2 linked regions of the Homo sapiens genome follow. The protein of the gene in region 2 purifies or fractionates together with the protein of the main gene of each other region. This does not show direct contact. Each region holds a gene or a part of one and is shown on either strand. Other genes may lie near its edges.

Region 1 (7,000 bases), on a different chromosome or scaffold from region 2:
CACAGTTAAATCTCAGTTCCTCTGAGAAGACAAATGTGACAGTTTTACTAGATACAAATTCAAATGTCAGACCATCCCTGGCTAATCAGCAAAGGTAAATAAGGGAAAAGCTGACATACATGATCAGGCAGCATATACATCCATAAGCTTCAAGAAGCTGGTAACGGACAGATTCCTAGTAAAAGGCTTGATCTATGTCTCAGTTCAAACTGAGAGAAACAGGTCAGGATGACAATGAAGAAAGGATGACCAGTGGAAGCCAAGATGCTTCCCTAGCATATCACCACAATTCTTCAACTTTCTGGGATGAGGGTATTCTTATCCAACAAGGACATCACCATGACCCTAACACTGGCCAGGTGTGGTGGCTCACACGTGTAATACCAGGTGGGTGGATCACCTGAGGTCAGGAGTTTGACACCAGCCTGGCCAACATGGTGAAACCCCATCTCTACTAAAAAACTGCAGCAATCCACAGGACAGATTATCACAGTTTACATAACTATTCCTCGTTAATGGATATTAGATTGTTTCTTATTTTTTATTACAAAAACAAAGCTTGGATATAGAACTTGGTGCTATGTACAAGTATTTCAGATGGGCAGTTTGCAAATATTTTCTCCCATTCTGAGTTGTCTCTTCACTTTGTTGTTTCCTTTGCTCTGCAAGAGCTTGTTTTCTTTTGGAGACAGAGTCTCGCTCTGTCGCCCAGGCTAGAGTGCAGTGGCACAATCTTGGCTCACTGCAACCTCTGCCTCCTGGGTTCAAGCTATTCTTCTGCCTCAGCCTCCCAAGTAGCTGAGATTACAGGCACCCACCACTACACCTCACTAATTTTTGTATTGTTGGTAGAGATGGGGTTTTGCCATGTTGGCCAGGCTGTTCTTGAACTCCTTACCTCGTGATCTGCTGGCCTTGGCCTCCCAAAGTGCTGGGATTACAGGCGTGAGCCACTGTGCCCAGCCTGCAAGAGCTTTTTAACTTGATGTGATCCCATTTGTCCATTTTTGCTTTGGTTGCCTGTGCTTTTGGAGTATTTACTCAAGCAATCTTTGTCAAGGTCAGGTGCAGTGGCTCACACCTGTAATCCCCACACTTTGGGAGGCTGAGGAGGGCAGATCACTTGAGGCCAGGAGTTCAAGACCAGCCTGTCCAACACAGTGAAACCCTGTCTCTACCAAAAAATAAAAAAATTAGCCAGAGATGGCTAGGCATTGTGGCTCACGCCTGTAATCCCAGCACTTGGGGAGGCCGAGGTGGTCGAATCACTTGAGGCCAGGAGTTTGAGATCCATTTGGCCAACATGGTGAAACCCTGTCTCTATTAAAAATACAAAAAAAATTAGCCAGGCCTGGTGGCACATGCCTGTAATCCCAGCTACTCGGGAGGCTGAGGTAGGAGAATTCCTTCAATCTGGGAGGCAGAGGTTGCAGTGAGCCGGGATCACGCCACTGCACTCCAGCCTGGGTGACAGAGCAAGACTAGAAAGACTAAAAAAGAAAGAAATATACATATATGTATTTGGCTTCAAGTGATCCTCCCACCTTGGCCTCCCAAAGTGTTGGGATTACTGGTGTGAGTCACTGCATCTGGCCTCAAGAAGCCTTTATGGAAATGAATTGAGCTGTGAGGTTGAATGAGTATAACGGATCATCCAGAAGGGAAAATGGCACTAAAACAACAGTTCTGTTAGGTTTTCCTGCCCCTTCTATGCCTGCTGGCTCCTTCCCCGCTCCCTCCTCCCATCACCTTTACATATTTCTAACATGGCTAGGTGCAGTGGCTCACACCTGCGATCCCAGCACCTTGGGAGGCTGAGGTGGGCGGATCACCTGAGGTCAGGAATTGGAGACCAGCCTGGCCAACATGGTGAAACCCCGTCTTTACCAAAAATACAAAAATTAGCCAGCATGGTGGGGCGTGCCTGTAATCCCAGCTACTTGGGAGGCTGAGGCAGGAGAATCGCTTGAACCCAGGAGATGGAGGTTGCAGTGAGCCGAGATCATGCCACTGCATTCCAGTCTGGGTGCAGAGTGAGACCCTGTCTCAAAACAAACAAACAAACAAACAAAATTTGTCCAGACTAATGTCTTGGAGAGTTTCCCCAATGTTTTCTTTTAGTAGTTTCAGGTCTTGGATTTAGATTTAAGTCTTTAATCTATTTTGATTTGATTTTTGTACATGGTGAGAGATAGGAGTCTAGTTTTATTCTTCTGCATATGGATATCTAGTTTTCCCAGCAGCACTTATTGAAGAGATTGTCCTTTTCCCAATGTATGTTCTTGGCACCTCTGTTAAAAATAAATTCTCTGTAGATGTACAAATTTATTTCTGAGTTCTCTATTCTGTTCCATTGGTCTATGTGTCTGTTTTTATGCTAGTTTTGGTTACTATAGCTCTACAGTATAATTTGAAGTCAGGTAATGTGATTCCTCCAGCTTTGTTTTTTGCTCAGGATGGCTTTGGCTATTATGGGTCTTTTGTGGTTCCATATAAATTTCAGGACTGTGTTTTTCTATTTCTGTGAAGAATGTCACTAGTATTCTGATAGGGACTGCACTGGATCTGTAGATTGCTTTGGGCAATAAGGACATTTTGACAATACTGATTTTTCCAATTCATGAGCATGGAATATCTTTCCATTTTTTCATGTCCTCTTCAAATTCTTGCATCAGTGTTTTACAGTTTTCATTGCAGAAATCTTTCACTTCTTTGGTGAAGTTTATTCTTAGGTATTTCATTTGTAGCTATTGTAAATGGGATTACTTTCCTGATTTCTTTTCCAGATCATTCACTGTTGGCATATAGAAATGCTACTGATTTTTGTATATTTATTTTGTATCCTGCAATGTTACTGAAGTTGTTTTTCAGTTATAATAGTTTTTTGGTGGAATCTTTATGTTTTTCCAAGACTCTACGGTTTTAGAATCTCCTGGTAAGACGAAGGAGTACTCATTTACTCACTCCCTCAAAACACTGGATCTTAGCAGTCTTTTTGATTTTTTACAAATCTGATTAGTGATTTTGTATTTCTCTGAGGATGAATATTTTTCATTTGATTACTGGCCTTTTGTATTTTTACCCCTTATAAATTGCCCCAGTTTTTGCCTATTTTTTTTCCCTATAAACAAAAAGATTTGTAGCTCTTTATGTATTCTGGATATGAATCTCTTCCCTCTTCAAAAATATTATTTTTCTTCCACTCTGTGCCTCCCTTTTGCTTTGACATGCAGAAAGCTTTAATTTTTGTGTGATCAAATCTGCTAGTTGTTCTTTTAAAATTTATTATTATTAATATTATTATTATTATTAGATAGGGTCTCCTCTGTCATCCAGGCTGGAGTGCAGTGGCACAATCACAGCTCACTGCAGGCTTAACCTTTTGGACTCAGGTGATCGTCCTACCTCAGCCTCCCAGGTAGCTGGGACCACAGACACACACCACTACGCCCAGCTAATTTTTTGTATTTTTAGTGGAGACAGGGTTTTGCCATGTTACCCAGGCTGGTCTTAAACTCTTGGGCTCAAGTGATCCACCTGCCTTGGCCTCCCAAAGTGCTAGATTTACAGGTGTGAGCCACTGTGCCTGGCCTAGTTGTTTTTTTTATGGTTTCCAGATTTTATGTCTTGCTTAGAAAAGCCCAAGAAAATAAAAATATTTTCCTGCATTTTATTCTAATACTTTTATAGCTTTTATTTTCAAGTTAGATTATTTAATCTAGCTGGAATTTACAACTCAATAATGAAAAGACAACTCAATTTAAAAAACATGCAGAGGACTGACTAGACATTTTTCCAAAGAAGACATAAAAATGGCCAATAAGCCCATGAAGAGATGCTCAACATCATTCGTTATTAATGAAAATCAAAACCGCCGGGCGTGGTGGCTCACGCCTGTAATCCCAGCACTTTGGGAGGCCAAGGCAGGCGGATCATGAGGTCTGGAGTTTGAGACCAGCCTAGCCAAGATGGTGAAACCGCATCTCTACTAAAAATACAAAAACATTAGCTGGGCGTGGTGGTGGGCGCCTGTAGTCCCAGCTACTCGGGAGGCTGAGGCAGAAGAATTGCTTGAACCTGGGAAGCGGAGGTTGCAGAAAGCTGAGATCGCACCACTGCACTCCAGCCCGGGCAACAGAGTGAGAATCCGTCTCAAAAAAAAAAAAAAAAAAAAAAAAAGAAAATCAAAACTGTAAGGAGATACCATTTCACATTTTTTGAGTCCAATATATCTCCTTTGTTGACTTATAAGCTATAACTCTTTATTGTGTTATTTTATTGGTTGCTTTGGGGTTTAACTTACAACAGTCCACCTTCAAGGTGTGTTACACTACTTCACACAGTTTAAGAACTTTACAATAGTGTACTTCTGTTTATCCCCTTCTGTTATTGTTGTCATGCATTTTGCTTTTACATAGTTATAAATCCCATAACACAGTTATTTTGTTTATATGACATATAATAAGATTAATAGAGACCCAGCCTTCAAGTAGGATTTATCCTAGGAGTGCAGGGTTGGTTTAACATTTGAAAATCAATAGGCCGGGCATGGTGGCTCATGCCTGCAATCCTAGCACTTTCGGAGGCTGAGGCGGGTGGATCACAAGGTCAGGAGTTCGAGACCAGCCTGGCCAATATGATGAAACCTTGTCTCTACTAAAAACGTAAAAAATTAGCCAGGTGTGGTGGCATGTGCCTGTAATCCTAGCTACTCGGAAGGCTGAGGCAGGAGAATCGCTTGAACTCGGGCGGTGGAGGTTGCAGTGAGCCGGGATCACGCCACTGCACTCCAGCTTGGGCGACAGAGCGAGACTCCATCTCAAAAAAAAAAAAAAAAAAAAAAAAGTAAATAAAAGATCAAGACAGTAAATTTTATGTTTGTTTTATTGCAGTTATAAAAAGTTAAACATAACACTTAACTTGTGATTCAGCCATTCTATTCCTATATATTTATTCCAAGAAAAAGGGAAATATATCCATACAAAGGCTCGTACACAAATATTCATAGCAACTTATTTGCAACAGTCAAAAATCAGAAGCAACCCAACATTCATCAACAGGTGAATGGATAAACAAATTGTAATATACTTATACAATGGAATACTACTGAATGATAAAAAGAATTGAACCTTTGATACAGGTATGAACATGATGAATCACTACACTGAATGAAAGAAGTCAGACAAAAAAGAGTACATACTTCATGATTCCCTTTGGATAAAACTCTAAAAAATGTAAACTCACGTACATTAACAGTGACAAAAGCAGGTAAGTGGTTCTTGAGGAAGAGAAGTGGGACAGGTAAGAGAGGGATTACCAAGGGACAGGAGGAAACTTTTAGGGGTGATAGATATGCTCACTGTTTGTTGTGATGGTTTCACAGGTGCAAACATACATCAAAACTCGTCGAATTCTATACTTTAAATATGTGCAATGTATTGTAAGTCACTTACCTCCCTAATAAAGCTGTTACAAAATATATACAGGTTATTTAAATTTTTATACCTTAAGGGAAATAAGTTCAGTTACTCAAGATCTCCATGTCTTTCTTAATTTTATTTTACTATGATTCTTGTTTTTTTTTTTTTTTTTTTTTTTGGGATGAAGTCTTGCTCTGTTACCTAGTCTGGAGTGCAGTGGCGTGATCTTGGATCACTGCAACCTCTGCCTCCCGGGTTCATGCGATTCTCCTGCGTCAGCCTCCTGTGTAGCTGGGACTTGACAGGCATGCACCACCACGCTCAGCTATTTTTTTGCATTTTTAATAGAGTTGGGGTTTCACCATGTTGGCCAGGCTGGTCTTGAACTCCTGACCTCAGGTGATCCGCCTGCCTCGGCCTCCCATGGTGCTGGGATTATAGGTGTCAGCCACCGCGCCTGGCCTACTTTACTATAATTCTTAATTTTACTTTACTATACTTACTTTACTGTATTGTATTTTATTTACTGTAGCCTTTTATTTAAAGGAAAAAGAACAGAAATGTCTCTTTTGCTAGTTAAAAAAATTTATGGGCTACAATTCTTTATAATTTTTCTGAAAGACCACCAAATAATAATAAACATGAGGTTGGGTAGGTTTCCAAGTATATATAACCCAGAAAATGGTGAATTCATTCTGTTCTTGGCATGATGTTTTCTCTTTTTATTAAGAACTCAGACTTTCCTAAAGAAATTCCAAAAACAAATGGTGAATTGGGGCTATTCTAAAAGTTGCTCTCTCTTCCACAAAGGGTAGTAGAAGCAATACAATGACAGAACAATTTTGTTTTCATATTTAATTTTATCTTACCCATCAATTTGTTGACATTTTGTTTCTGTAGGTGGCCAATGAAGTGCCATTTGATCTCAGGACACAAAGACAGAATCTGAGGGGAAAAAGGTAACCATGTGTAATTCAGATTTTATAGAGGCCTTGCTGGCTCAAACGCCTCGTGCACTCCCTGTCACCTTTCACATCCACTCTCTGTTCCTTAAATGTAATAAACTATCACAATCTTCACCCGGCCTCCTAATGAGGTAAAAGGATAGAGAAAAATCTAAGGCTTCTGTTCTGTTTTCCTTCCTTGTTCCCATCAATTCCCTCCATCTTTCAGATATTGCCCATCTAGGATGAACTGATTTAAGCTTTCAAATCTTGAAAAGATCCAAGATTACAGCAAGCTCCTGAAACCACCATTTCCAAACAGCCACCAATGAGAAAACGACAGTCTGAACAAAGAGAAAAATCTAGCTGAGAATTACTTGGGGCTCAAGGAGGAAGCTGACATTTCTATCCCTGGCCCAATCTAAAGTCAACCACCCTAAAACTGCTGTACAACTCAACCACCAGGATGGGTCTAATTTTCAACTAAAGAGCCAAGATTTAGATACAAATTAAAGAATTCAGCTATCTACTTACTTTGGGATTTGATGCTTTTTCTAGCAGTTCCTGAACCTAAAAGGTCAAAACAGAACAAGTCAGAAGCCTGGCAATCATGATGCTTCCAAAGGGCTTCAGGAA
Region 2 (7,125 bases):
ACAGGCAAATCATGTTTGTAGGAACTAATATGTCCTGTAGTAGCTGAAGAGAGCTTTTATGTTGTGAAAACCAGCTAGCTTAGGATACTCTCTGGCCCATCCCCCAATGTAGGACCCTCTTGCAAATAGTCCAAAAAAAAGCACAGTTCATTTCAATCCCATGAAAGAAATCAAAGAAGACATGAGTAAATAGAGAGATGTACTGTGTTCATAGATTGGAAAACTCAACATAGTAAAGAAGTCAGTTCTCCTTAAATTGATTTACAGATTTAACATAACAATAATCAAAATCTCAACAGGATTTTTTATAGATATGGACAAAGTGATTTTAAAATTTATATGGAACAAAAAAGGACCTAGGATAGCTAAAACAATTTTGAAAAAGAAGAATAAAGTGAGAAGAATCACCTTAATCAAATTTAAGATAAAGCTACAGCATTCAAAACAGTATGGTATTGGTGAAAGGAGAGAAACACATCAAATAATGTTACAGAATGAAGAGTTCAGAAATAGACTGACATATATGGTCACTTTATTTTTGACAAAGGTGGTAGATTCAATGGAAAAATTGAAAGGCAAAAGGATAAACTTTTCAACAAAAGTTCTGGAACAATTTTGCATCTAGATGCAAAAAACAAAAAAACGAAAAACCAAAAACCTTCAACCTAAACCTAAACCTCATACTTTATATTCAGAATTAACTCAAAACGGATTGTAGATCTAAATGTAAAACATGGTACTATAAAAGTTCTAGAAGAAAATGGGATATTTGGAACTTGAGGGTAGGTAAAATTCTTAAACACAATACCAAAAGCAAGATCCATCAAAAAAAAGGTTGATGATAGGACATGGTCAAAAGTAAAACTTTTTCTACAAAAGGCATTTAACACAATTTAAAAACAAGCTACAGACTAGGAGAAAATATTTACAAATCAGATATCTAACAAAGGGCTTGAATCTAGAATATATAAAGAAATCTCAAAAGTCAACAAAAAGAAACAAGCAACATGATTTTTTTAAATGGACAAAGGATTGAACAGACACTTCAGTAAAAAAGGATATGATGATGGCAAATAAGCAATGAAAGGTATTGAAACATCGTTAACCCTGAGGGAAATGTAAATTAAAACCATATGTGGTGGGATGCCACTACGATCTAGTCTAATGTCTAAAATTAAAAATATTGACAATACCAAGCGTTGGCAAGGATGTGGAGCAACTGGAACTCTCATATATTGCTTATATTGCTAGTGGGAATGCAAAATAGTACAGCCGATCTGGAAAGCATTTTAGCAGTTTTCTATAAAGTTAAACATACACCTAACATATGACCCAGCAATACCACTTCTGAGTGTCTTAGAGAAATGAAGGCTATGTTTATATAAAAGCATAACATGAATATTTATAGCAGTTCTATTCATAATTATTAAAAACTTCTAGAAACAACCCAAATGTCCCTCAGCAGGTGAATGGATAACTTGTGATATAGTCATACAAGGGACTATTAAAGAGATGAATTATTGATGCATGCAGCAATGTGGGTGAATCTCAGAGGCATTCTGTTGAGTGCAAGGAGGCAGTCCCAAAAGGTTACATACTGTAAAATCCCATTTTTGTCACATTCTGGAAGACAAAGATATAATGATGGGAAACCAGTGGTTGACTGGGGTTGAGATTACTGTAAAGGTAGGATCGATAGCACAGGGGAATATTTTCAGGGGGTGATGGAACTAATATATGTTTTGATTTTGATGATTGTTACCCAGATCTATATGTGTGTTAAAATTCATAGAACCGTATACCAAAAGAAAAAGATTTCTATTAAGGAAATTTTTAAAATAAGTTTTTAAAAATGTGCAGGAGCAACATAATATATTCTTGTGGTTTACACGTCAAGTTGTGTCTGTCCAGGATAACCCCCAGATGCCTGTGTAGGCATTTCCATTGTAAATGTATCCTGTCACATTTTTACCCTGCAACCTTCTGAGTCTCTCCGTCAGTGTGGCCTCAGCTGCCTCATTGCTTTTTGGAGTCTCTGGATTTTCCCCTCATTACTGGCTCTAGGTTGCTCCTAGAGGTGCTAAAATATGCTGCTGGGGTGAGAGCAACGAGGTATCTGCATGCCCCTTGCTCAGAGTTGAAATAAGCATAGCCATCCCAGTTCCTAGTGCCATGAACATCTCCCCATCCTCCCTGTTATCCTTAGCTTCTCACGCGACCTGGCCTGGTCCTGGTCCACAGCTTCCTGCTTGGTTTCATGCCTCATTGGCATTTCAGTGAAGAAACTTATTCTTACAGGCTGTAGAAAATCTCAAAGTGTTATTGCCTGAATGCACATCCTAATTGTAGTGCCTGCTCTACTCTGCCCAGTGGGAGTTGCAAACAGCCTTTATGAAGTCAGATTTTTCTTGGAATCATTTTCAGGTGGCTATTTTCCTCCTGAGGATTTGTCTTATTAAGCCATTCGAGTGGACAATGGAGGCACGTGAGTGTCTGGGTGGCAGCAGGCTGCACCGTTGAGACATGGAATAAAGTGCCATAAACGTCTTCCTTTATTTTATCTGCTTTGGCTCAAGCTCTTGGCAGGGTAAAGGGTTCTAGACAGCTATTGTGTGCTCAGCTCCAGTTGCTGTGGAAAGGTTGTTTATTTCACAAGTAGAAAATCTATACCAAAATTAGATACATTGCTGTGTAATTGAAGGTAATGTCCTTTTATTCACTTACATATTACAGTGTACAGTACTTTGAGTCTTGTGTTCGTGTTACCCTCGCAGTTTTTATTGATCAACAAAAAGACAAAGATGGCTTTTAATTCTTCCCGGATGCTACCAAATCAGAATACAGACCTACCGAAGATTATTTTGTCGTCAAGGATAAGACAGGCTTCTTGAATATTATCTTTCCCTGGGGCACATTTTCTTGCCAACTTTAGAGTTGAAAATACTCTGGTTTCTAAAAACAATAACCTAGAGGCTTTCTTTGTTGTCATTACTAAGCATGCCAAAGATGGCCACTGGAGAAAATTATTTCAGTCTCTTTCACTCTGATTCTTATAGATAAAGAGAGAACTGCACAGGCAAGCAAGAGAGGGAGGGAAGGAGGATATAGGAGATGAAATTCATTGTCATCGTTAGGCAGAGCCTCTTGTATCTTAAATTCTATTTTTGAGACTTGAAAGGAAAGAATATTTTAAAGCACTTTGGTAGCCACTGTAGCAGTTCCTAGATTTTAGTTATTCCTAACTGAATGCTCCCTTGCTGCTAATTTCTTTTGTCAAAAATGAAAACCCACTTATCACCATTCATGTAAAAATCTCCCACATATTTAAAATAGTGAGGTTCAGACATTTTTTCCCCTGAAAGAGTATCCATTCATTTAACAGTTCTTTACCAAAAAAGACATGTTTTTGTGAATTCAAATAATTTTCATTTTTCTTAGATCTTCTCTAAATTTAACTCAACTTTAACTTGCAGAGACCAAATTAAATTCATGTCCAGAAGTACCTACTGCTCACCTGACATGCAAGGTGCCAAGGTGTGAATGCTAAGGGTTTGGTTCTCAAAAAGCACGCGATGTGTTATTACTTCTTAGGAGGGCATTCATTTAGTTGATTTATGCCAGGAACGTGTAATGGGAGAAACCTATGCTCTTAATACAAGTTTCTTTATTCCTAGAATCTGTTTTTTAGTGACAGGGAAGAAGGAAGCTGGTATTGCCAGCACTTTTTCTTTTGTGACAGCTGCAATGACCAAAATTCCTTCTTATGTAGAGCCAGATACTCGGGAGTTCCACCCACTGTGAGTCAGTTCATGTTCACACCAACCCTGTGAGGTGGGCAGTGCAGGTGCTGGTACCCATTTTCCAGGGGTGGCAGATGAGGCTCAGAATTTAAGGGACTTGCTGGATTTCATAGGGGCTATGATTAAAATTCAGTCTTTTGACTCCTAGATCAGTGGTTTTTTTCCAAACAAGGGATTACCAACTCGGTCAGATCCAATGCTCCTTTCTAGAACTGTCCTGAAATGAAAGTCATAGTTAATGTAATGTACCCATAGGTTTTTTTTTAAATAACATAATTCTCTAACTAATACAAAGGAGAAATAAAAGAAAGTGATCCATAATCAAAGAGTATGTATTTTAAAATATAAATGGTTAGGCAGATCTAACTGGAAGATAGAATGAAGTAATCAGATGGCTATTCCTAAACATAGAATCACCGTGAATACACTGTCTACAAATGCAGATGATAAAGATGTGTTGTGTGGGTGACACATGTCACTAAGTGGAATGTGGTTTTCCAGAACAGTGAACATGCTTGGTTAAGTTCTGAACACAACAAAGTGTAATCTACACTGTGGCTACTGAGTTTATTTGTAAAATGAGCTAGAGTCTAGTCTCAGATCATTATAAACCAGTTTTCACCTACAAGAACGTCTTTTGGGCCATTCACAAGTCATTGTGCAGGACAGTCTTGTGCATTGTAGATAATGGTGTGCTGGCAAACCAGCTGTCTGAATTTATCTGAGTTGTATCATTTGCTGATTTCTGTGCTGTAAGTACTCCTACAATGGCTGATTTCAAACTACCAGTAGGAACTTTCTCACAAAATTCCTGTAGATTTGACCACCAGCTTAGTAGGAGCCAGCTCTGGGAAACCACGAATTTTGTAGGATCTCTAGCATCTCTGGCCCTGCCCTTTAAATGCCAGTTGGATTCCCCAAATCATTGTGACAATAAAAAATGTCATCACAAGTTTCCCAAACACCTTCATCAGAAGCAGTAGCACCCCCACTGAGAAAAACAGTACATTCAACTCTGATGGTATTACGGGCATAAGTGACCTCACCAAATAGGTGCTTTATCTAGATAGGTCTATGTGATACTCCCTAGTATGAAGCCTCTGGCTGCCTGTTCTTGTTTCTCTAGGGAGACAGGAACAGCACTGAACAGTACTACAGGGCTGGTCTAAGCCTGTAGAGCTGGTCTGGCTGTGCCTTACTGAGGATCAAGAAGGAGCACCAGTACTTACACTTTTCAGCCTTGATGAACCCAGGGCAGGCAGTCTAGTGACATTTGCCACATCCTGTTTCTCTCAGCTTTGGTTAGAACACAGGAACACAACTCAGATAAAGGAGACCCATACTTCAGAGCTGTACCCTGCCTTTGAGTCCATTGCCTCTTTCCTCAATCCAGTTCATCGCCTAAGAAGTTAACAAATGGTGAAATCACTGAAGCACATCTCCTTTTCTCAGTATTGGAATGGCTGTTCATTATGGATTACGAAGGTGGATTAGCCTGTGGCCTATAAAATGAGCAAGTGGAATCAATTCACAGGGCATCGGGAAAATTGGGAGCAAGCTATAAAAATAGTCTTAAATACTGATAATACAGGAGATAGACCCAGTTTTATTAAAGTAGAACATTTGGTTTAAGACCTTTGCTACAAAAGACTAAAAGGTCTTTTCTTTCCTGCCTTAGTGTACACTTGACTGTGAAGTGGCTGTGAGAGTGGGTGGAGAGTTCTTCTTTGACCCTCAGCCTGCGGATGCCTCTAGAAACCTCGTGTTGATTGCAGGAGGAGTCGGAATTAACCCTCTGCTTTCCATCCTGCGGCACGCAGCAGATCTCCTCAGAGAGCAGGCAAACAAAAGAAATGGATATGAGATAGGAACAATAAAACTATTCTACAGTGCAAAAAATACCAGCGAACTCCTGTTTAAGGTAAGGGAGGTATAGCTTGCTGTAAGCAAACTTGTGTAGTGGTATTAATTGTTCATGAAAGTTTTTTCTCTAGGTTTTGTTTTCTCTGCAAAGGTTCAAACAAAAGGCTTGGCAAGATTTAATCATGCTTAAATGAGAACTAACCAACACACCTTACCCAAGACAAGTAAAACTGCTAGTGTTGAAGAGGCTAGCAGTTAGGTGACAGGAAAGGGTAGGTTTTGGTGGGATGGAATCTGGAGGTTAAATGAACAGAAAAGTCACAAGGGTCCCGAGATTCCAGTCAAGAGACCTACAGTGGACTAGTGTATCACAGGAGTAGGTAAGACTTAGACAGTTTGGACCCAGCTGGGTAAATGAAACCCCTGTCAGTTGCATCTGTTTAAACTAAGTGCATTTGATGAAGAAAGCTTTCACTGGGGATTGCTTTGCAGCTGCAGGAATGAACAAAAGAACAGAAACAGTTAAAAGACACAACTGTGGTCAGTGAAACTGCTGCTTAATTGCCAATGCTTGAGAAAAAGGAAAAAGAAAAAACTCCCGGAGAGTTGGTAATATGCTTGTTAGCATATTCAGATTTCAATTAAAGCCAAATAGCCCTCTGTAGTCTGAATGCTCTGGCCTGCTAGGCTGCAAACAATATCTCTCTAAGTAGAGAGCGAGAGCGGCAGACGTGTGCAGAATGGGAGTTGAGGTTCAGCGTCAATGGTTGTGCACATCTGTTTTGATTTTTTAAAATTGTAGTGTGACCAAATATGTTTGACATTCCAGAAAAATATCCTTGATTTAGTAAATGAATTTCCTGAGAAGATTGCATGCAGTTTGCATGTTACAAAACAGACTACACAAATCAATGCGGAACTCAAGCCATACATCACGGGTGAGTCCCCTAAAGATATTTTGACTATCTCCATGCAGTTATTTGATGGACACACCAGTTGGTTGAGCGTAGATGCTTTATTGTTGGAAGCTGCTGGCTGGGAATGTCACTATCTGGGGAATTGGGATGATTCCTCATGGAAAAATGGATATTTAGTTGGGTTTACTCATTATATACAGGTTTCCTATTGCCTGTGTTAAAAGTGTACTTTTCACACTTTTTAAGAGGCCTTTGCATCATCACTGTAGTGTCCATACAAATAATTTATATTCCAGATTTGGCTGAATTGATTCCATTTGCCATTAATGGTCATTTAAACAACTCATAATTTCCTCTGAAAGGATTTTTATAAAACAGTTACTTCCTTTGCTGAAGGCAATTTGTATCTCCATCAAAGACCAGTAAGCTAGCTGGCCCTTTCTGCAGAGTGCATTACGATGAGCTTCCCACTTTGCTTGCTTAGGTTTAGGAAGCCTGGAGATGCACTCTGCTTGGGTCTGGGCCCAGATGCCAATAGGAGCCAT

The links. Proteins that work in one complex are often made in the same cells at the same time.
Region 1: the proteins of OXNAD1 (region 2) and PLPBP purify together in Homo sapiens (affinity purification with mass spectrometry; 2 studies listed by BioGRID and IntAct, with this or other methods). This does not show direct contact.

The regions. Positions count from the first base shown.
Region 1 is NC_000008.11:37,765,645-37,772,644, reverse strand, and holds part of PLPBP (pyridoxal phosphate homeostasis protein), read right to left. Parts: intron 6,935-7,000; coding exon 6,899-6,934; intron 6,366-6,898; coding exon 6,290-6,365; intron 6,164-6,289; coding exon of another isoform or gene 6,111-6,163; exon of another isoform or gene 4,867-6,110; intron 1-4,866. UniProt on the Homo sapiens protein: Pyridoxal 5'-phosphate (PLP)-binding protein, which may be involved in intracellular homeostatic regulation of pyridoxal 5'-phosphate (PLP), the active form of vitamin B6.
Region 2 is NC_000003.12:16,296,148-16,303,272, forward strand, and holds part of OXNAD1 (oxidoreductase NAD-binding domain-containing protein 1 isoform 2 precursor), read left to right. Parts: intron 1-510; exon of another isoform or gene 511-4,017; intron 4,018-5,029; exon of another isoform or gene 5,030-5,478; coding exon 5,479-5,721; intron 5,722-6,492; coding exon 6,493-6,601; intron 6,602-7,125.